3 linked regions of the Homo sapiens genome follow. The protein of the gene in region 2 purifies or fractionates together with the protein of the main gene of each other region. This does not show direct contact. Each region holds a gene or a part of one and is shown on either strand. Other genes may lie near its edges.

What was found.
Region 1: the proteins of PGM1 (region 2) and PGM2 fractionate together in Homo sapiens (co-fractionation; 2 studies listed by BioGRID). This does not show direct contact.
Region 3: the proteins of PGM1 (region 2) and TALDO1 fractionate together in Homo sapiens (co-fractionation; 2 studies listed by BioGRID). This does not show direct contact.

Annotation. Positions count from the first base shown.
Region 1 is NC_000004.12:37,829,631-37,836,781, reverse strand, and holds part of PGM2 (phosphopentomutase), read right to left. Parts: intron 6,819-7,151; coding exon 6,651-6,818; intron 2,165-6,650; coding exon 2,058-2,164; intron 1-2,057. UniProt on the Homo sapiens protein: Catalyzes the conversion of the nucleoside breakdown products ribose-1-phosphate and deoxyribose-1-phosphate to the corresponding 5-phosphopentoses.
Region 2 is NC_000001.11:63,631,338-63,638,488, reverse strand, and holds part of PGM1 (phosphoglucomutase-1), read right to left. Parts: intron 6,833-7,151; coding exon 6,707-6,832; intron 3,661-6,706; coding exon 3,470-3,660; intron 2,256-3,469; coding exon 2,101-2,255; intron 1-2,100. UniProt on the Homo sapiens protein: Catalyzes the reversible isomerization of alpha-D-glucose 1-phosphate to alpha-D-glucose 6-phosphate. The mechanism proceeds via the intermediate compound alpha-D-glucose 1,6-bisphosphate.
Region 3 is NC_000011.10:743,091-750,476, forward strand, and holds the start of TALDO1 (transaldolase), read left to right. Parts: upstream 1-4,373; 5' UTR 4,374-4,391; coding exon 4,392-4,488; intron 4,489-7,386. UniProt on the Homo sapiens protein: Catalyzes the rate-limiting step of the non-oxidative phase in the pentose phosphate pathway. Catalyzes the reversible conversion of sedheptulose-7-phosphate and D-glyceraldehyde 3-phosphate into erythrose-4-phosphate and beta-D-fructose 6-phosphate.

The sequences.
Region 1 (7,151 bases), on a different chromosome or scaffold from region 2:
AAACTTGCTTAGGGTAAGACGCAGAAAATGGCATCAAATCTTCCTTCAAGCTGGTGTAAAATACGTTACCACAAATAAATGAGCGATTTACTTAGAATGAACAACATTATACCACCCCTGTGAGTTAAACAATCAGATCATTCTTACTCTCCCCAAATACTTCTTGGGCACTAGCTTCGCCGACACTATTCTGAAGGCTGGCTGGGGCACAAAGAGCAGATCGCCACTCTCTCTCTCTGTTACAAATGTGCACAAAAAAATGCAATGCGTTCTCTGCATATACTTAACAGTTACTGCTTACGTTCCCCACCAGATATTTAAAATTGGAAGATTAAAGGATAAACATCTCCTCGGGCGAAATTCAGAAACTGCAATAGTTTCCAACTCCTTACGAAGATTCCATTCACTCATCATGAATATTTTACCATGTGTTGGTTAAACACTTACATTATGATCTCTAAATGTCTCACGCGTTACAGGTGATAGAGAGTAGCCTTGAGTTCCACTCCATCCCATCCCATCAAACTCTGAGACTTGAACCATAAGCTTAAATCAGTAACATCACTCACTTTAAGGAAATGATACGGCTCCAAGGCCAGGGCAAAAAAATCTGTACCTTAATTGATAATGTTAACATATCTCTGAAGGTTGTATCAACCAGAAGCAGGGCAGTCAGCCCAAAATGAAGAAATTTACGCAGCTCAGCAGACAGACTTAGCCACATACGTGCACTTTGCATGCTCTGAGCAAAGGATCTGACTTGCCCTGGGGCGGCAGAGGAACACGGTCACGATTTAGTTCTGATTGTACATCCACTAACTGTAAATGACAAGCTGATATGCTGGTTTATACCACATCATTCTCTTGTGAATGTAGTTCATGTGCATCTATCCCCCAGAGCTATAACTTTTCTCTTGCTTTATTGACAAAAAGCACATTTTTGAGCTGCAAAGCTAAAGACTAAAAATCTTATGCCCTCCTGAGTTGAACCTGGGGCTGATGCCACCGGGTGATTTTCCCCGGCTATGCACCCTTCCTCACGGCCACACGTTTGTCCCCACGAGTGCTTCTGTCTTAGATTGGAAGCTCCTGATGGGCAAAGATAGGACTCTATAAACTCATCCAGCTCTGTAAAGCTAATAAGACTTTTCATTAATATTCAATATGTGTAATTCTAAGCTACTACTAATACTGATACTCTAGAATGATTAAAAATTCATCATAACAGAGGAAGTGTTCAAGTAAAAAAGAGGGTTATGTAACATGGTTACGGGCAGGGGTTGGTAACTACAGCCCATTTTGTAAGTAAAGTTTTACTGGAACACTGCCATGCTCCTGTGTTTATGCATTGTCGATGGATGTTTCTCTGCTTCATGGGAGAGGTGAGTAGTGGTGATGGGAATCATGTGATATGCAATGTGTATGATATCCACTATTTGCCCTTTAGAGAAAAAGTTTGCTGACCCCTGGTACTAGTGTCCTTAGGCTTAAATTGCGACTCCTCCTTTCACATTATAATCTCAGGGTAAAGAGATAAAAGTACATACCTTACACGTTGCTGTGAGGATAGAATGAGTAAATACATAAGTGTCTGGTTCATAATCAGCACTCAAATGATTGCTGCTATTACTATTATCATTGTCACCATCAGCATCATATGCCTTCAGCTACATAAGAGAGTCCCATTGGTTTGAGAATGTTTCAGAAATGCAGCTTGACGTGGGCGTTCAAGAGAGGGAAGGGGGTCATGAGGTTTATGAATAGCAGGGTAAAAATTATGTATAAAAAGGCAAATGAGAGGGAAAAATAATATTGCCAGTTTAAGAAATTTCTTTCTTTTAGCTAGGTATTACATTCTAAATTGTCTAAATAATTTTATTTCCTTAACCTAATGTAAAACCAGAATCTTTAAAAGTTGCCAAGAGAATTTACCCATTGTTTTTACAGTTAAGCAATGAGGCTAATGAATATATTAAAGTCAAGTTATTGAGATGGTGATTAAAATAAAACTGCAAAATAAATTATAAAAACATCATTTTGTAAAAATGTTTAAATACCTTCTGCTGCTACCCCCACTGGATGGATGAGCTCGGGCGTCAAAACTGATCACGATGCCTTTCTGCTTTAAGTCACTGAATTGTTTTTCCAGGTATCTGCAAAATCCCTACAAATACACCATAGATTTAAAAAGTATGTTTTAACATATTTTTATATATACCATATAGAAAAATTAGCCAAAAATTAAGTTTTCTCAAATTTCATAGAACACTATGGGAGAGAGGGAAAAATTCATCTCAGTAAGGAAGCAAACTGAACAATAATAAAATAACAGCTTTGTTTATTATCTATGTTTTTGTATTGGGCACTGTGTTAGTCATTGATCACTTAGTAGCTGTTATCTCTAACCTCAGATCAACTTTGTTAGGAAATTTTTTTTTTTTTCCAGAGACAGGGTCTTGCTCTGTTGCCTAGGCTGGAGTTGCAATGGCACAATCATAGTTCACTGCAACCTTGAATTCCTGGGTTTAAGCAATCCCCCCCTACCTCAGCCTCCTGAGAAGCTAGGACCACAGGTGCATGCTACCAGGCCCAACTAATTTTTAAAAATTTTTTGTAGAGACAGGGTCTTGCAATGTTGCCCAGGTTGGTCTTGAACTACTGTCAAATAATCCTCCTGTCTTGACCTCCCAAAATGCTGGGATTACAGGTGTGGGCCACTGCACCTGACCAGAAAACCCATTTTATAGATGGGTAAAATAAGCCTCAGAGAGGCACAGTGACAGTTTCAGATATTCGAGTAGCAGAGCCTGGATTTGTATCCAGGGCTGGTGAGAGGTAGTTCAGTGTAGGGCTTAAAAGCACATACTCTAGAAGCACAATCTGAGAATTTGTACTCCACGCTGCCACCTACAAGCAAATGACAAGTTCCTTAATTTCTTGGTGCCTTAGTTTCCTCTTCTGTAAAACAGGAATAACAATAATACCTACCTCATAAGGAGTAAATGAATGAAAACATGCAAAGTGCTGAGAATTCAACACCAACTAAGTACTATATTAAGTGTTTGCTGTTTTACGCATTATTTTTGTTGTTATTTTCCTTCAAAGCCATATAAAACAAAGAGAACTCTGGTTGATTGGGCAAAAATAATGATTCATTTTATATTATTTATTTCACTTTTGCTAAAGGAAGTCTTATTAAAATATACATAACTCTTTTTCTTTTGAGATGGGGTCTCACTCTCTCCCATGCTGGAGTGCAGTGACACGATCATGGTTCACTGCAGCCTCAATCTCTCAGGCTCAAGTAATCCTCTCACCTCAGCCTCCTGAGGTGCTGGGACTACAGGCACATGCTACCATGTCTGGCTAATTTTTAAAAAACAATTTTTGTAGAGATGGGATCTTGCCATATTGCCCAGGCTGGTTTCAATCTTGTGGGCTCAAGCAATCCTCCTGCCTTGGCCTCCTAAAGTGCTCGGATTACAGGCATGAGCCACCATGTCCAAGCCATAATTTTTATTTTGGGTAGGAGGGGATACATCACAGTCTTGTTGCGAGAGCCAAGCTAATTTAGAATGCCTTTAGCTTTTCCTTGACAAATACATTGCACTGGGATTATCTTCTGAGGCTGAGTGATACAAGGAAATAAGGCCATGTGTATTGGTTTTGTGGGTTCCCCAGAAGGTACCCAGATGCCTGATACTTCAAGACTTACAACAGTGACAGTACCCCTCTTCCTGCTCAACCCTTGAGCTGTGGCCCCAATGCTCCATGGGGCAAAAAAGCATTCACATCTCCAGATTCTCTAAAAATCTCGGAGGCCTGCTGAGGATGAGGACCTGAAAGAATGGCCAAGGGAAAAGGGAATTCTTATTCTAGATGAAAGACTCAGTGGGGGAAGAGGGAGGTTTTCAGAAATAAAATGTTATTATAAAACATAAGAAGCAAGTTTATGTGTATGACCTTCAAAAAGTAGAACTAAGACCAATATGTAAAGTCTACAGAAAGGCAGATTTTGGCTTAAAATAATGAAACCATCTTTTAATGAGAATGGTCCAAAGATAGAATGGCCTCTTTCAGAGGACAGTGAGTTTCCCATCACTGGTATGCTATGGCTAAATTAAATAATCTATGAACACAGAACCCAAAATAGAACATAAATAAAGCATAAATTAATTGGCAGGAGGAAATTATAACCTCTATCAATGAGGCAAACAATACAAAAGTTTCCTCCAGTCTCTGTCCTGTTTCCTTTGACATATTTTTGAATCACATACATCTGCTTCTTAAATGAACCAGGCAAACTTTGGGGTACCTCAGAATGAGGCTCCACACCCAGAGACCAGCAGGAAGGGCACCTATGCCACCATGAAAGTCTGATCAGTGAAAAGTGACAAATATATTTGCATATCAGCATTCTGCCAGGGAACACTACCCAAGACTGGGTAGAAACCTGGGTTGTTTGTTCTGGGAATCCTCTTGCCTCTAATTTTGAATCCACTCCTAAGATTTTAAAGATATACTTGCTGCTCAGATAAAACTTTCTTAACTCTTCACATCTCTGTCTCCTATTACAAGTATCCAAGAATAGGCTGAATGAGCACTTCAGAGTGGTGGGGTCATGGAGAAAATTATCCCAAGGGGTGTCTGGTTGAATTACATGACCTTTAGAATATTGATCATCTATGTTTACCACAGGGTTTACCCCCAGAGGAGATGAATTCTAGGATAAAAATGGGTAAGATAGTCCTTAATGGGAATACATTTCATTATTCTCAGAAACTAGATATAGAAAAATACAGGGGAAAAAGCTCTAGGTTAATCTAGAATCCCTTAGAAACCCCTAACAATTAGGCCCAATGGCAGGTGTAACCAACTGGATTGTCCAAAGATGGCCCCAGTAATATAAGCCATCTCACATGTTCCTCTTACAATGTGACATCAATGCTCCTTTAATGAGAAGTGGGTATCTATGTGCCCTCTCCTTGAATATGAGACAGCCTTATTGACTCACTTTTAACAAACCGAATACGGTAGAAGTGACACTGTGTGACTTTCAAAGCTACGTCATAAAAGTCAGCACAGCTTCCAATTGGCACATTCTCTCTCTCTCCCTCTCTGGATACTTCACTGAAAGCCAACCACCATGTTATAAGGAAGTCCAGGCCACATGAAGGGGTTCCAACCCCAGCTAAGATCCCAGCCAATAGCCAGTAATAATTTCAGACGTGTGAATGAAGGTGCCTTCAAATGATTCCAACCTCCAAACTGGCCCAGATGGTGCTGAGTGGAGCAGAGACAAGCTGTCCCCACTGAGTTCTACCAAAATTGCAGATTTGTGAGCAAAATAAATGTGGTTGTTGTTTTAAACCATTATGTTTTCAATGATTTGTTACATAGCCCTAGTAACTGGTACAGAAGGCAACCTTATTCAGCAGCACAGTTCCTATGTTATCCATGAACCAAACAGGATTCCCATACTTACCCCATTCTAAGTCTTTCCTCCAGCATCTCAGGGAGCCCTATTGCTTAATAACAATTTGTGACCAGGAGTTCCCATGGCAATTCTTTTTTTTTTTTTTTTTTTTTGAGACAGAGTCTTGCTCTGTTGCCCAGGCTGGAGTCCAGTGGCACAATGTCGGCTCACTACGACCTTGCCTTCCGGGTTCAAACAATCCTTCTGTCTCAGCCTCCCAAGAAGCTGGAATTACAGGTGCACACCACCACGCCTGGCTAATTTTTGTATTTTTGGTAGAGACAGGGTTTCACCATGTTGCTCAGGCTGGTCATGAACTCCTAGGCTCAAGTGATCTGCCTGGCTCAGCCTCCCAAAGTGCTGGGATTACAGGTGTGAGCCATCGCGCCTGGCCCCTGTGGTAATTCTATACCCTTAGATAAGCTTTCCTTGTTGGAGTTTTGTTACAACATGCCCAGCTCTGCCTTTTACACTGGGATGTATACGTGAGGCACATGTAATCACTATTAGGCAATTTTTTCTAGCCTTTCTTTTCCCACAATTAAAGTGACATTCATCATCAACAGGTCTAAGGTGAAGAAATACTGATGTGAATAATCTGTTCTATTTCATTTCCCTCATAAACAGTACTGCCAATACCCAGTAGAAGCACTTCTGTTTTGTCAAATTATCTCCTTCCTAAAAGCTGGGTCTAGATTCTGACAAAAATATTCACAAATTAAGACAGACTCAATCCATACTATAAAACAAAGGAGAACAGGCTCTTGGTAACTCCGGCAGTTAGAAAAGCTTTTTAGCACTTGCTATGTAATCATGGCAAAAATTACAGGACCTTAAAAGTTGTCAGCTTAGTTGGTGCATTTATACTGGAATGAAAGCTCCATGAGAGAATCTGTTTGTTCGAGTCATTCTTATATCCCCAGTGCTGGCACATGGTATGTACTCAATAAGTGTGTTAAATGAATGAATGAATGGATGGATGGCTATATGAGTCCTGAATAAGTGCTACTTCGACCTATTGTGCAAGCCTTACTTTATGGAGTAAATGGTGGTGACTTCCTGTGTCTAGCCAAGCTGGTAAGACATGTCTATAATTAGAATAAATTAGGTCTGCCAAATAGAAAATGAGCTAGGGGATACATTGAGTTACTAAGAATTATAAAAAACATGGTACCTGTGTAGTCTGGATGATGGTCAAGTCATTCATACGAGAAATTCCAGGTCCCATAGCAGCTCGGAGGCCAGCTGTCCCAAACTCCATTCGGGCCCCAAAACATTTTCGTAGTTCTTCTTTATTACCTTCTGCTATTAGTCGTTTCACTGCCTCCAAAGTTAAGGAATTCTGAAAAACAAAAATGTATAGACACAGCCAGACAAGTGAATGAAAAATCAGAAATGTAAAAAAATTCACAATCATTCTAATCTATAGAAAATATATATATATGTATATATATATATGTAGACCTTTCAATTTTCTGATGCTTTTGAAATCTGAAATATGAAGTCAGTTTGACATTATAATGTAAGTGTTCTTTTCTTTCCTGTCAAGGTAAGCACCTTTGGAGAAATCAAAGTAGAGATTTTAGCATATGAGTCTAACCCCCAGAATGGAATCCCAGAATACCACTTGCCAACTCTAGGTGCTTGCGCAGATTATTCCAGTTCTCAAATTCTG
Region 2 (7,151 bases):
GGCGGAAGAAGAAAGAATTAATTCAGATCATGGAGTTTAATATTTTAGAAGAAGCATCCGTAGTAAAATGTTCAGGGCTGCTGTTTAAGCTATTTAAATCCACATTTTGGATACAGACTGCATCTATAATCAATCTATAAAGAAGAGAAGAATGATGTTTTGATGCACCTGTAATCACAGAATCATGACATACTGGGTCTGGGCAGTTAGCATTTTACAGAGAAGGAAACAGGGCCCAGAATGTTATGTGATCAGACAAAGGTCACAAAGCCAGGATGACCGACCGCCCAGTATTCAGCTCTCTGGTCAGTGCTGCTTTTGTCTCATCAGAAGTCTCCCCAGGGGAAACGCCCAGTGGGGTCTCCCCTAAGTACTGGCTTCACCCACACTGATTAGTGGTTCCCCTTCCCTTCTAACACGTCTTTTATTTCTCTCTAGGTATCTTTAAACTATTTAAAACCTCTGAGTGACTTAAAAAAAAATTCCTTTCCCTTTGAACATGAAAAGTTACCTGATAAGTTCCATTCACTGTTTGAGCGAGATTTGCTTCCCAGAATGTTTGCCTTATTTCCAGGAAAGCAATGTCAGCTTTGCATTCTGATATTTGAGGAAAAATCAAATCTATGATTTTGAAAACTATGAAAGTACAATAAACTTTTATCTGGGTAATGAGGTACTTCAATTGTGATTCTATATGTGGATTATCAATTTTTCCAAAAATTGGAATTACACTGTTCTTGGATGACATAGAAGGTATTCCAGGACCTGACAGGCCTAACATATGATAGTGTGACCTCAAACCAGCTCATAATTTCAAATGCAGGACCTGATGGTAGACGTGCTGGGCTCAAATGCTAGCTCTAATTTGGTGGTGAGATCTTGGACAAGACTGCTAACTTCCCTGACTTTCCATTTCCTCTTCCTTAAAATGAGGTCTGCTGTGAGGATCAATTGAGATGGTGAATGTAAAAAAACACTATACAAACTACAAACCACTATATGGATATTAGTGGCTATTTTCTTGTTAGCTGAAGCAAAGTCAGCACCAATTCTATAACCATCTCCCCTCTACAGAAAACAACTGCATGGCCCAGTGAGTGGGAGCAAAGGCTCTGGGTTCAAATCCTGAGTCAGCCATTTACCAGCTGGGTGACCTCAGGTAAGTTACTTCTTCGTCCTTTGGTTTTCCCACCAGAAAAATGGTGTTAAATACAGCATTTACCTCATGGGGTTCATCTGAGAAGTAAATGAATTAAAACATGCAAAATATTTAGTGTCTACAACAAAGTAATGTTCAATAAATATCAGCTATTATTATAAGAGCCTAGAGATATATTACAGCCTACTTTCCTCCCTGGCCTTGACCTTTTATTCATTCATTCATTCTTTACCTTTTATTCATCAAACATTTCCTGCACACCTGACATATTCTAACTAATGTTTTCCCTGGTCCTCATCTGTTATGACTTTCATTTTTCAACTTTTTAAGTGTGATCTAACAAGCCACCTCAAAGCCTTTGTACAATGAAGTGATATATAAACATTCACTGTGTTTGTGTGGGCAAGAGCGATCCAGTCGTTGAAACTCTAAAATTACTTCAAACTGCTCTTTCACCCACACTCTGTGCACACTGCAAAAGAAAAGTGATCCTCCAGAATGATGTCTTGAGTACTTCCATTGTTATTCATTAACACTCAACTATTCATTAACTTTAAAAAATTATACGTGTATGTGTGTGTGTGTGTTTGTCCTACTATGTGCCAGGCACGCTATGGTCAGGCAGAGTCCAGATGGTGAACAAAACAGTCCTTTCTCTGCAGAAGTATACAGTCTAGCAGGGCAGCCCATCAAGAAAACAGCTACTAGAACACAGTGTGGTAAGTGCCAGGAGGAGGAGGCCCAGGGTGCCAAGGGAGTGCGGAGAGGGGCATTGAATCCAGAAAAAGCCAACCATCCCCTCACACAAGAATCGCTCAGCACACTCTATGCATCAGATGCCCATGCTGAAAGGGAAGGACACGTGTTCCAGGCACAGTGAAGGGTATGGTGAAGACTGGGACGACCTAAGACAGGAAGGCCAAGGGAATGGAGACACCTACCGGTCCAGAGCACCACTCGTGGGCATGCTCCGTGCAAAGCCGCGGACCCCAGTCTGCTGGAAATACGGAATGCTGAAGATGTTGGCAGCAATGACAGCCACAGAGTCTGAAGGGTTCACAAAGAACCCATGCTTGCCCAGAATCATGTTTCGATCCTTGGGGAGAAGAGAGGATCAAAGAAAGACCTTTTAATCAAACTATAAGAAATCAAACTATCTTTCATGGGGGTTTTATAAAATGTAAAACTATAAAATTTGAAATTGATCTCCTTTCCATACTGCATTTTTAACACTGGGTTTTATTTTCAATGAGTTTATACAGTACCATTGGGCCGAAGGCACCTCCATGCCAAAAAGTTAAAACTGTTTTCAATTAAAGTCCAAGCACAACCTCCTTTTGAGCTGAGTCCTCTGTTCTCCCTCCAGAGGCCAGCTAACTTTAACCTCCTAGACTTTTTTCAGACTCTGGAACCAATCATCTTTTTCCCAGGGGAGGGGAAAATGCAATGAGAGAAGAAATATTGGCTGTTTACATAGTTTGGTAGGTCTACTGGGTAAACTGTGTACCACAGTCTGTGTACCACAGTAACTGGGAGGGTGGCCAAAAAACACTCCCAGAATGCACTCATCACAAAGATGTACTACAGAATAATGTCTGCTGGAACCCCTTTAATTTCCCAACATTTTGATAAGGGAAAAATCATTTTTCAGGAAACAGTGGATTCTAGCTAATGGTAACACTAGCAACAACAAAAATATATTTTCAACTAAGTAAATGTATACAGTGCCTACCATCAGTGAGATACCAGGGATATAAACCTAAGACACATCTCTTCCTTGTCTGGTACATAGTCACCCTTGTAAATAAAACAGCTTATTTCTAAACATTTTAATGGTAGAGAATGATTAAAATGTTAATTCTCTCAATATCATCTTCATATAGGCAATGAAATTACAGCTTCAATATTCAGCTCATGTGAATGAATGAATGGGTGTATTATAAGACCAAAATCTTGTCCAGAGATTAAATAAGTAGCCAGCTGCTGGTTGAGAGCAGAAACCCACCTTAAGACAGGCATCTAGAACTCACCCAGCTCAGGAAATACCAGTCATTCTATCATAATCAGAACCTAATCATCGTGCCATTGTTAGCAAGTATGGATGTCTGAAATTAAATGTGTGGGTTTCATTTCAATGACTCCTATTCCTGTTCAAGAGGGGCTTCTAATAATTTAGTTCTGACCTCGGGTCAGAATGAGGGATCCTTAACAGTTATTCCCTGGGTCTGGCAGAAGCAGCCCACTTTTTTCCCCATCTGCAGGATCAGGCCTGGCCTGCACCAGAGTTCACTTAAATGCACTTATACCCACCCCATCTCCATCAAAGGCAGCCCCAAAATCATGCTCTCCTGACTTCATGGTCTCCACCAGGTCAGCTGCATAGGTGAGGTTGGGGTCAGGGTGGTGGCCTCCAAAGTCCTCCAGAGGAACGCAGTTAACTGCCGAGTTCGCAGGGGCACCGAGTTCTTCACAGAGGATCTTCTTTACATACGGTCCCACAACTATATACAGCATGGAATAAATGTATGCAGAATCAGAAAATAAAACTCCTTAAAGTATGTGAGGATTCAGGGGTGAGGTGGATGCATTCTGGGGAGAAGAATGGCATGAGAAACAACAGGAATGTGTGAAATGTGTTCAGGGACTAGTGGAGAGATACGCCTGACTGGAGAAGAATGTTCTCTAAAAAGGAACAATGAGAGATTATGTTGGAAAAGGTGGGGCCAGTTCATGAAGGGCAGAGTGGGGAAAGGAAAGGAAACCAACCATTATAAAGGCCCTGCGGTATACCTGTGCTTTCCCATTCAGTCCTTCAGAAAAGCTCAGAAGGTTGTACAGCTTAGAGCTTAAGAGCCTGGACTCTGGAATCAGAGTGTCTGGGTTCAAATCCCAGCTCTGCCAGTCATTGGCTGTATAATAATTTTGGGAAAGTTATTTAAACTCTCTGTGCCTCAGTCTCTTCCATCTGCAAAATGAGGGTAGTAATGCTAACTACTTAACAGGATTGATGTAAGGATTAAATGAGTTAATAGCTATGAAGTACTGAGAATAGTACCTGGCAGATATGTTATAAATGTTTATATTATGATTATCACCTGCAGTTTACAGATACATTGGAATGTTGGTGTTCTGAGGTAAAGACATTTGCCCAAACTTACATGGCTAGGAAAAGTGGGAATTGGGATTCAGAGCTGTTATCTTTATATTATGACAAGCTAGCTGACAAACTGATTAAAAAAACACAAACAGGCCAGGTACGGTGGCTCACACCTGTAATTTCAGTACTTTGGGAGGCTGAGGCAGACAGATCACATGAGGTCAGGAGTTTGAGACCAGCCCAGCCAACATGGTGAGACCCTGTCTCTACTAAAAAAAAAAAAAAAAAAAAAAAAAAAAATATATATATATATACACACACACACACACACACACACACACACACACACACACACACACACACACAGAGACACAGACACACACATGCATACACAAAGATTTGCCAGGCCTGGTGGCGGGCGCCTGTAATCCCAGCTACTCAGGAGGCTGAGGCAGGAGAATCGCTTGAACTTCGGAGGCGGAGGTTACAGTGAGCTGAGATTGCACCACTGCACTCCAGCCTGGGCAACAGGGCAAGACTCCGTCTCAAAAAAAAAAGAAAATAAAAAACCCACCACCAAAAACAAACAACAGGAGAAGCCAGTTACATATGTTTACAGTGACATTTTATATAACTACCAAGAACACGCATCTCTGAAATGCTGAGAGAGTATTTTCATCAAGGATGGTACTAATCCCAATACAGTACATGCCCCAGAGGTCATAACACTGTAGAATAAATGTGTCCTATGAGGCATCACCTATTAAGCAGGTTACTGACACACCACAGAATGAGGTCAAGGCAGCCAGGGCTGTGAGGGATATAGAAACGAAAGCATTAGAGGAACAGCCAAAAGACCTGGAGAAAAGTAGTCTTCTTCCGGAGAAGCTCCTCTTACCCAATGCCCTCCTCACATGCCCCATTATCCAGCCAGCCCAGGCCTCTCGTTTCCCTAATGTGACATCCATTTTTAAGCCTTCATGCCTTTGCCACAGCCACCGACTCCATGAGAATGACCATTGCTTGATTTTTCATCACTCTAGATCTTTCTTTCATAAGAACTGAGTTGGATGCCACTTCTTCCAGGAAACCTTTCTTTATACCTAGTCAAATTATGCCTTCTTCCAACCCCAAAGAGAATACTTGAAATTCCAACTCTCATTTTGTTGGCCTGGCAGGAGTTAGTTTTTTAGGGATTTTTTGTTTTTTTGAGACGGAGTCTTGCTTTGTCGCCCAGGCTGGGGGGCAGTGGTGTGATCTCCGCTCACTACAACTTCCGCCTTCCGGATTCAAGCTAGTCTCCTGCCTCAGCCTCCTGAGTAGCTGCGATTACAGGCATGTGCCACCACACCCGACTAATTTTTTGTATTTTTATAGAGACTTTTATAGAGATGGGGTTTCACCATGTTGGTCAGGCTGGTCTTGAACTCCTGACCCCATGATCCACCTGCCTTGGCCTCTCAAAGTGTTGGGATTACAGGTGTGAGCCACCGCGCCCGACCCCGGGGTTAGTTTTTTACCCACTTCGTCTCCCCAAACATTGCACATTCTTTGAAGAAAGTAATCTGCCCAGTTCCTGCCTATTCCCCAGGCATGCATTTTGCAGGTATGCAATACACATCTGTTGAATGGTTTAAAATGACAGAATCGCTTTTGTCTGAGTAAGGAAGTAGATCCATTCTATGGGAGTCCAGAGGCCAGCTAGGACCCAAGGGGAGAAGTTTCAAGGATGGAAGGTTTTAGTTCACCAGCAGAAGACTTTCTGTGGTTTGCAGTGTCACAGGAATCCCCGAATTGCATCACTAAAAGGGTTCAGTTGCAGGCAGAAAGGCTTCTCCAACCAGGCAGATGTATGTGTATAGGTTTCAGGGATTCTCATATACCTACATGTCTGAGAAAACCCTCGTGGTTCTGGTTCACAGTGATAGCTGCCCTCTCTATGGACCTGACCACACAACCCACGGAGGAAGAAGAGAGGGCTGTACACATCATGTTGCTCCTGAATTTAATCCTCAGCTTGCTCTTGCCCTCTTCTAAGAAAACGAGCATTTGGGGGCAGGTGAGTGGGGGTGTGGGGCTCAGGAGTATGTTTATCACATCTCCCAAATGACCGTCCTCTCAGAAATACATGGGGGCATGCAGCAAGAATGTAAGGTATCTTCTGAGGGGGAGGGAGAGTCCACAACAGCAGTTGCATGTTACTCAGAACCTGATGCTTAAGGTGGAAACACTGACCTTCACACGAGCTTACCACGAGGAGTGTCTCTACTATTTTTGCTACATACAATTAGATTTTTATCTGTGTGAATATTGCTCTGGTTGCAAAATAACTCTATTTAAAAACCATCAGAGAGACTTGAGAAAAGGCTTGTTGAAGCATCATGATACACACAGAAGAGGGCAACTTCCTATCCTCAAGAGATGGGAATTGAAAAGAAATGATTGTATACCTCCATGCATAGCATCAATACGGATCTTCAGTCGGTTTGGCCCAGAAAGTAGTTCTTTCAGTGCACTGAAATCAAAGATGCTTCTCAGCATTGTAGCATAAGCTTCTACCGAATCCACAATTTCCACTGTGAGAACAAGCAACATCAAAAGATGGAAGGATTAAACACATTTAGAAATATTATATTCTGATGTGACTATATTGCTGTAAACCTGCTATTGCTATTTTAAAAGGACAATTATTGAACAGCTCCAATAATACGGCTGTTAAGTGATATCCGATACTATCTAATACTACCAATCCTTACCCAATACTAACAATTTTCCTGAGAGGTAAATGTTATTAGTCCTATTTGATAGATGAGGAAACTCGACGTGTGAAGGGTTAAGAAACTTGCCCACACAGCTTGGATGAGGCACACAGGGGATTTTCAACAGAGGTTGTAT
Region 3 (7,386 bases), on a different chromosome or scaffold from region 2:
TTCTTTTTTCTTTCTTTTTTTTTTTTGAGGTGGAGTCTCGCTCTGTTGCCCAGGCTGGAGTGCAGTAGCGCAATCTTGGCTCACTGCAACCTCCGCCCCCCAGGTTCAAGCAATCCTCCTGCCTCAGCTTCCCTAGTAGCTGGGACTACAGGCACATGCCACGATGCCTGGCTAATTTTTTTTTTTTTTTTTTTTTTTTTTTTGAGATGGAGTCTCGCTCTGTCGCCCAGGCTGGAGTGCAGTGGCGCGATCTCGGCTCACTGCAAGCTCTGCCTCTCAGGTTCATGCCATTCTCCTGCCTCAGCCTCCCGAGTAGCTGGGACTACAGGCACCTGCCACCATGCCCGGCTAATTTTTTGTATATTTAGTAGAGACAGGGTTTCACTGTGTTAGCCAGGATAGTCTCGATCTCCTGACCTCGTGATCTGCCTGCCCCGGCCTCCCAAAGAGCTGCGATTACAGGCGTGAGCCACTGCACCCAGCCTAATTTTTGTATTTTTAGTAAAGACGGGGTTTCACCATGTTGGCCAGGCTGGTCTCGAACTCCTGACCACAGGTGATCACCTGTCTCGACCTCCCAAAGTGCTGGGATTACAGGCGCGAGCCACCGTACCCAGCCTTTGTTCCACTTTCATTCCCACCAGCAGCGCATGGGTGTTCCTGGAGCTCCATGTCCTCACTGGCACTTGGTGTTGCCAGTCTTTTGTTCTCACTATGATCCATGTGGACAGATCTCATGGTGGTTTTCATTTGCATTTCCCTAATAAATACTGTATACCACCAAGCTTGTCCAGCCCTTGGCCTGCAGGCCGCATGTGGCCCAACACGAATTCGCAACCTTTCTTAGAACATGAGATTTTTTATTTGCAATTTTTTTTAAGCTCATCAGTTATTGTTAGTATATTTTACATGTGGCCCAAGACAGTTCTTCCAGTGTGGCAAGGGAAGACAAAAGATGGCTACCTGCTCTATACCTTCTTCTGTGATGTATATTTCCTATTTTTGCATTTCAATGGAGAGAAGAAAGTCCTCTCAACAGATGCTGGAACAGGTGGAGAAAAACTACTTTCCATATCCAGGTCACGGAGACAAAAATAAAGGGGGCCAGGCGCGGTAGAGAAAAACTACCTTCCACTTCTAGGTCACAGAGACAAAAATCAAGGGGGCCCTGTGCGGTGGCTCATGTGAAACCCCGTCTCTACTAAAAATACAAAAAATTAGCCGGGCGTGGTAGTGGGCGCCTGTAGTCCCAGCTACTCGGGAGGCTGAGGCAAGACAATGTCATGAACCTGGGAGGCGGAGCTTGCAGTGAGCCGAGATCGTGCCACTGCACTCCAGCCTGGGCGACAGAGGGAGACTCCGTCTCAAAAAAAAAAAAACAACAAAAAAAAAACAAACAAACTGGAGTGGCCTCAAAGACTCTTAACATAACAGCTGAAAACCAAGACATCATAAGAAAATATTTTTGAGGCCGGGCGCGGTGGCTCACGCCTGTAATCCCAGCACTTTGGGAGGCCGAGGCGGGCGGATCACGAGGTCAGGAGATCGAGACCATCCTGGCTAACACGATGAAACCCCGTCTCTACTAAAAATACAAAAAATTTAGCCGGGCGAGGTGGCGGGTGCCTGTAATCCCAGCTACTCGGGAGGCTGAGGCAGGAGAATGGCGTGAACCCCAGGGGGCGGAGCCTGCAGTGAGCCGAGATTGCGCCACTGCACTCCAGCCTGGGCGACAGCGAGACTCCGTCTCAAAAAAAAAAAAAAAAAAAAATATTTTTGTTGGCTGGGCGTGGTGACTCACGCCTATAATCCCAGCACTTTGGGAGACTAGGGTGGGCGGATCACGAGGTCAGGAGATTGAGACCATCCTGGCTAACACGGTGAAACTCTGTCTCTACTAAAAATACAAAAGTTAGCTGGGCGTTGGCCGGGCGCAGTTGCTTAACACCTGTAATCCCAGCACTTTGGGAGGCCGAGGCAGGTGGAACACGAGGTCAGGAGTTTGAGATCAGCCTGGGCAACACGGTGAAACCCCGTCTCTACTAAAAATACAAAAGTAGCCGGGCATGGTGGCCCATGCCTGTAATCCCAGCTACTCGGGAGGCTGAGGCAGGAGAATCGCTTGAACCTGGGAGGCGGAGGATGCGGTGAGCTGAGATCGCGCCATTGCACTCCAGCCTGGGCAACAAGAGTAAATCTCCATCTCACCAGAAAAAAAAAAAAATTTGTCACTTTGGAGCAAGCAAAGACTCCTTAGAGAAGATACCAAAAAAGAGGAGTAAATATAAAATTAAAACTTGATAAATTGAACTTAATCAAAATAAAAAGCTAACGTTCATTAAAGACACTATTAAAATGAAAAGGGAACACATGCTGAGAGGAAGTATTGAAACCACCTTTGCAAAATTATAACTAAGGAAATTATGACAGTGAAAGATAACAGACTTAACCAATTCCATCTTGTTTCTAACCTTCAAACGGTCCTTGTCCATTACTGGCCATAGGCCAAACAAGTCTTGGGAAGGAATTTAATTTATAGTTTAAATAATAGCCCTTCCCCAAAACTAGACTGTTCTTGTAAAATGAATGAAAGGCCACCAGCCACCAAGTTAGAATGAGAGGGGCTGGAAGTCTAAATATTATCAGCCATTATTCTGGAGGTCATAAGATAAGATTTGCAACTTCCCCAAGATATCAACACTACTGTGAACCTAGGGTTGGCCTTTTTTTTTTTTTTAAATGGAGTCTCGTTCTGTAGCCCAGGTTAGTGTACAGAGGGACAATCTCGGCTCACTGCAACCTCCACCTCCCAGGTTCAAGCCATTCTCCTGCCTCAGCCTCCCAAGTAGCTGGGATTACAGCCATGTGCCACCACGCCTGGCTAATTTTGTATTTTTAGTAGAGACGGGGTTTTGCATGTTGGCCACGCTGGTCTCCAACTCCTGACCTCAAGTGATCGCCTGCTTTGGCCTTTCAATGTGCTGGGATTCCAGGCCTGAGCCACCGCGTCAGCCTAGGATTTGCCTTTTAAGAAGTCTTTTCCGCCGGGCGCGGTGGCTCACGCCTGGAATCCCAGCACTTTGGGAGACTGAGGTGGGCGGATCACGAGGTCAGGAGATCGAGACCATGCTGGCCAACATGATGAAACCCCGTCTGTACTAAAAATACAAAAATTAGCCGGGCGTGGTGGTGAGCGCCTGTAATTCCAGCTACTCGGGAGGCTGAGGCAGGAAAATCGCTCGAACCCGGGAGGCGGAGGTTGTAGTTAGCCAAGATCGCGCCACTGCACTCCAGCCTGGGCAACAAGGGCGAGATTCCGTCTCAAAAAAAAAAAAAAGTCTTTTCAGGTTTTTGCATTTCTGACAACCGGATGGCCCCACCTGGACCTGCCAACCAGTTGTGTGGCCTCTACCCAGGGACTGACTCAGCATAAGCGGACAGCTTCGACTCCCTGTGATTTCATCCCTAGCTGACCAGTCAGCACTTCTGACTCACTGGCCCCCTACCCACCAAATTATTCTTAAATACTGGGATCCCCGAGTTTTGGGGAGACTGATTTGAGGAATAAAACTCTGGTCTCCCGAACAATCGGCTCTGTGTGAATTATGCTTTCTCTATTGCAATTCCCCTGTCTTGACAATAGACTCTGTCCCGGCAGCTGGCAAGGCGAACCCATGGGGCGGTTACAGTGTCTGCAACGCAGACACAAGCGACAGAGACTTGATCAGAATATACAAGGAACTCTGCAAGTCAGCGATGGTAAGAAGCAGGGCAGCTGGGCCTCCTACGCCTGCCTCGCCGTTCGGTCCCCCGGACACCTCTGGGCTTAGGACTCAGGGGAACAGATTCCCAGAAGCAGGTTCCCCGCCGCGTCCGGCGCCCGGGCTCTGCAGCCGCCCCCTGCTCTGCCTCCTGCACCCGCAGGGCGTCCCCCGCCGCTCCCTCCCCTGCTTCCTGCAGCGGCCCCCGACCCCAGTCCTGGCCCCACCATGGATCCTGCATCGCCGGGTTCGGCCCTGGCGGGTTCAGCCCCGCAGAGTCGGCACCCGGGCCAGGTCCATCTCCTCCAGCCCTCCCGGTGCGTCCCGCGGGGCAGGAAGGAGGCGAGGCCCAGCCGCCCCGTGTCGTGCAGGTGTTTTCCCGGGCCCGTCCGCGGCGGCTGCTGAGGACCTGGGGAGACCCAGCCTGTAGGATCCGCAGCTGCGGTGCGCGGCCGGCAGTGGCGCTCGGGCTTCGTCCCCGGGGGCGGGGCTTCGTCCAGGCGCGCAGGGACCAGCGGGCCTCGCCCTCCCGCGCCGCTTTCCGATTGGCAGCCGCCCGCGGGGCATTGTGGGCCGTCCGCGCGCCCGTCCCGTCGCCGCCGCCGCCGCCGCAGACCCCTCGGTCTTGCTATGTCGAGCTCACCCGTGAAGCGTCAGAGGATGGAGTCCGCGCTGGACCAGCTCAAGCAGTTCACCACCGTGGTGGCCGACACGGGCGACTTCCACGGTGAGGACGGCGCGGAGCCCGGGCGCGGCGCAAGCGCCCTCCAGAGGCCCCGGCGCCCCGATTTCCCCGGGTCTCCCGTTCCGGGACGCGGACCGGGTGGCGGTGCCCCGGGCGGCTCGTTCCGGGAGGAATGAGCGCAGGTGCCGGATGTTGGGGCCAGGGACAGCCGTGAGGGGAGCGGGGCCCGGGTCGGCCGTGAGAGGCGCAGGGCCAGCGGCGACCGTGAGGGGAACGGGGCCCGGGTCGGCCGTGAGGGAGCAGGGCCGGGGGCAGCCGTGAGGAGCTGGGGTCAGCCGTGAGGGGCTCGGTGCTGGGGTCAGCGGTGCGGGCGGTACTGACGGGTCCTTGCGAGCCGTGGGGCACGAAGCCGGAGCCCCAGCCTCGCCCTCCGCCCAGGGTGGGGTCGGCTGCGCCCTCAGACCCCGCACCCGGGACGGGCTGTGGGCAGCCCGCGGGAGCCCCTCTGTGCACCTTCATGGGTCGAGGCAGCTTTCAGAGCCTTTGAGTTCAGGAGAGATTCAGGGTAGAGCTTCGAGCTGACTTCCACGTGGCCAGTTTGTGGTCAGCGAGATGCAATTTTGTTGGGCTGATGTCTGCAGAGCGGGGACATCAGCTAGCTCTGACCAGAAGCTGCCAGTGCTGCCATCGCCCTTGAGCCCTGCGGTGCCCAGTGGGACAACTCCGTGGGCGGCAGGTGCCCGGCCTGCTGGACAGCCACCGCCAGACGCACCGGGTGGGTAAAAGCCGGTGCCCATGAAAGCACAGGGTTGGTACACTGTTAAATACTGGATTTTCCTGGGCTTGAGTTGTTTACATTGGAGAGAACTTGGAAAATACAAAGAAGGATTATTTATTAATACTTAGCTCTTCTGTCCTCTGCAGTGCAGAGTAGACGAGCCTTGTGTCTATGTTTTGTTGAGAACAAGTAATATTTTTTAAGAAAATCATGAAACGCTTCATGGATGAATGCTGCGAGCACCTAATACGGAAGTGACTTCCTCTCTTTTCTGCTTTCTCATGGTGACTTGAGAAACAGGCTTTAATTCCTCTTTGGTAACTGAGTAAGGGCATTGTTTATCTAGCAGAGCCTAGAGAGTGAATTGGCATGTTTGGCTGCTTAACCATAAAATATGGGGATTCAGTGACTGGCTTGGGGTGCCACAGTCTGCTCCGGACCCCTCTTTGGGAGATCCAAAGCTAGAGCTGTGAATCCCTCACACACACAGCCCCCCCGTTGTAGTCCAGACCTCTCTTCATAAGAAAGAAAGCTCCAGAAAAGGGGCTACACATTTTTCTGCTGCTCAGTTTTTTCCCTTCTTAGCACTGAGAATAATTTGCAGTTTGCCTGGTGGACAGAGCGCTCATCTGTATTGTTCCTTACTGGCCCTCACCAGTTAGGGCAGAGCTGGTGCGGAGTGTCAGGTCCATTACACTTGGCAGTGCAGGGCCAATAAAGATGGATTTTCCTAAACCCACACCCACAGGAGGGCTGGGGAGTCCTGGGTTTCTGGTTTTGTTTTGTATTGTTTTTTAAGAAAACTTCTGGCCCAGCGAGGTGGCTCACGCCTGTAATCCCAGCACTTTGGGAGGTTGAGGCAGGTGGATCACGAGGTCAGGAGTTCGAGACCAGCCTGACCAACATGGTGAAACCCCGTCTCTACTAAAAATACAAAAATTAGCTGGGTGCGGTGTTGCATGCTTGTAATCCCAGCTACTTGGGAGGCTGAGGCAGGAGAATTGCTGAACCCAGAAGGCGGAGGTTGCAGTGAGCCAAGATCACACCACTGCACTCCAGCCTGGGCGACAGAGCAAAACTCCGTCTCAAAAAAAAAAAAAAAAAAATCTTCTAAACCCAAGTTGTGACATTTTTTTTTAATGAATATTAACAAAAAAATACATTCATTGATAGTATATGTTCATAAATGTTATATAGTTGTAAAATAGTCTGTTGGGTTTGTGATCTGTAGTTTGTGAAGTGAAGGTTCTTAACTCCTTGTGGGAGGGAGGCACAGGCCTCTGGAAATAGAATCAAAGCTGTGAATGCTCTTCCCACAATGTGATCCTCCCCATTTTGCATTCAGTTTAAGGATCCCTGGACCCTGAAACCCATTTTTGCCCCAATGGGCCTTGGTTTTGTTTTAATTTTGTAAAAGCCATTTGCTAAAAGCTGACTTTATCCAGGGGTGATTTTACAGGACGAAATGGGCTGTTTTCAGTGCCTCATTCAGTGCATTCTGGCAGACCTGTGTTAGCACTGTGCCAGATGTCATGTTGAAATGAGTATAGATGCACAACAGGCTTTTTCTTAACTTGTCATGTTGAAATGGGTATAGATGCACAGAAGTTGCAAAATCAGCCCATACAGTCCTGTGAACCCTTCAACCACTGTCCCCCATGGTGACATCTCATGTGACCATGGCATGGCATCCACACCGGGAAGTGGGCACTGCTGTGGTGCTGATGCTGTTATAGACTGCAGGCCTGGCTCAGGGCTCCCCAGTTTCCCCCTGCACTGGGGCAAGGAGGCTATGTGACAGTTTCATAAAGTGTGTAAATTCCTGGACCACTGTGACAGGACATAGCTGTCCCATTGTCACTGAGATCCCCGTGTCCCTCAGAGACCCCTCATTCCCTGTTCCTTGGCAACCTCTAACCTGTTCTCTACCTCTATAGTTTTGTCATTAAAGGACCCTTTGAAAGTACTTATTCCAGCCTGCGCAACATGGTAAAACCCCATCTCTACAAAAAGGAAGAAAAAAAAATAGCCAGGCGTATTGGTGCACACCGTAGTCCTAGCTACTCAGGAGGCTGAGTTGGGAGGATCACTTAAGCCCAGGAGGTTGAGGCAGCAGTGAGCTGTGACTGCGCCACTGCACTCCAGCTTAGGAGACAAAGTGA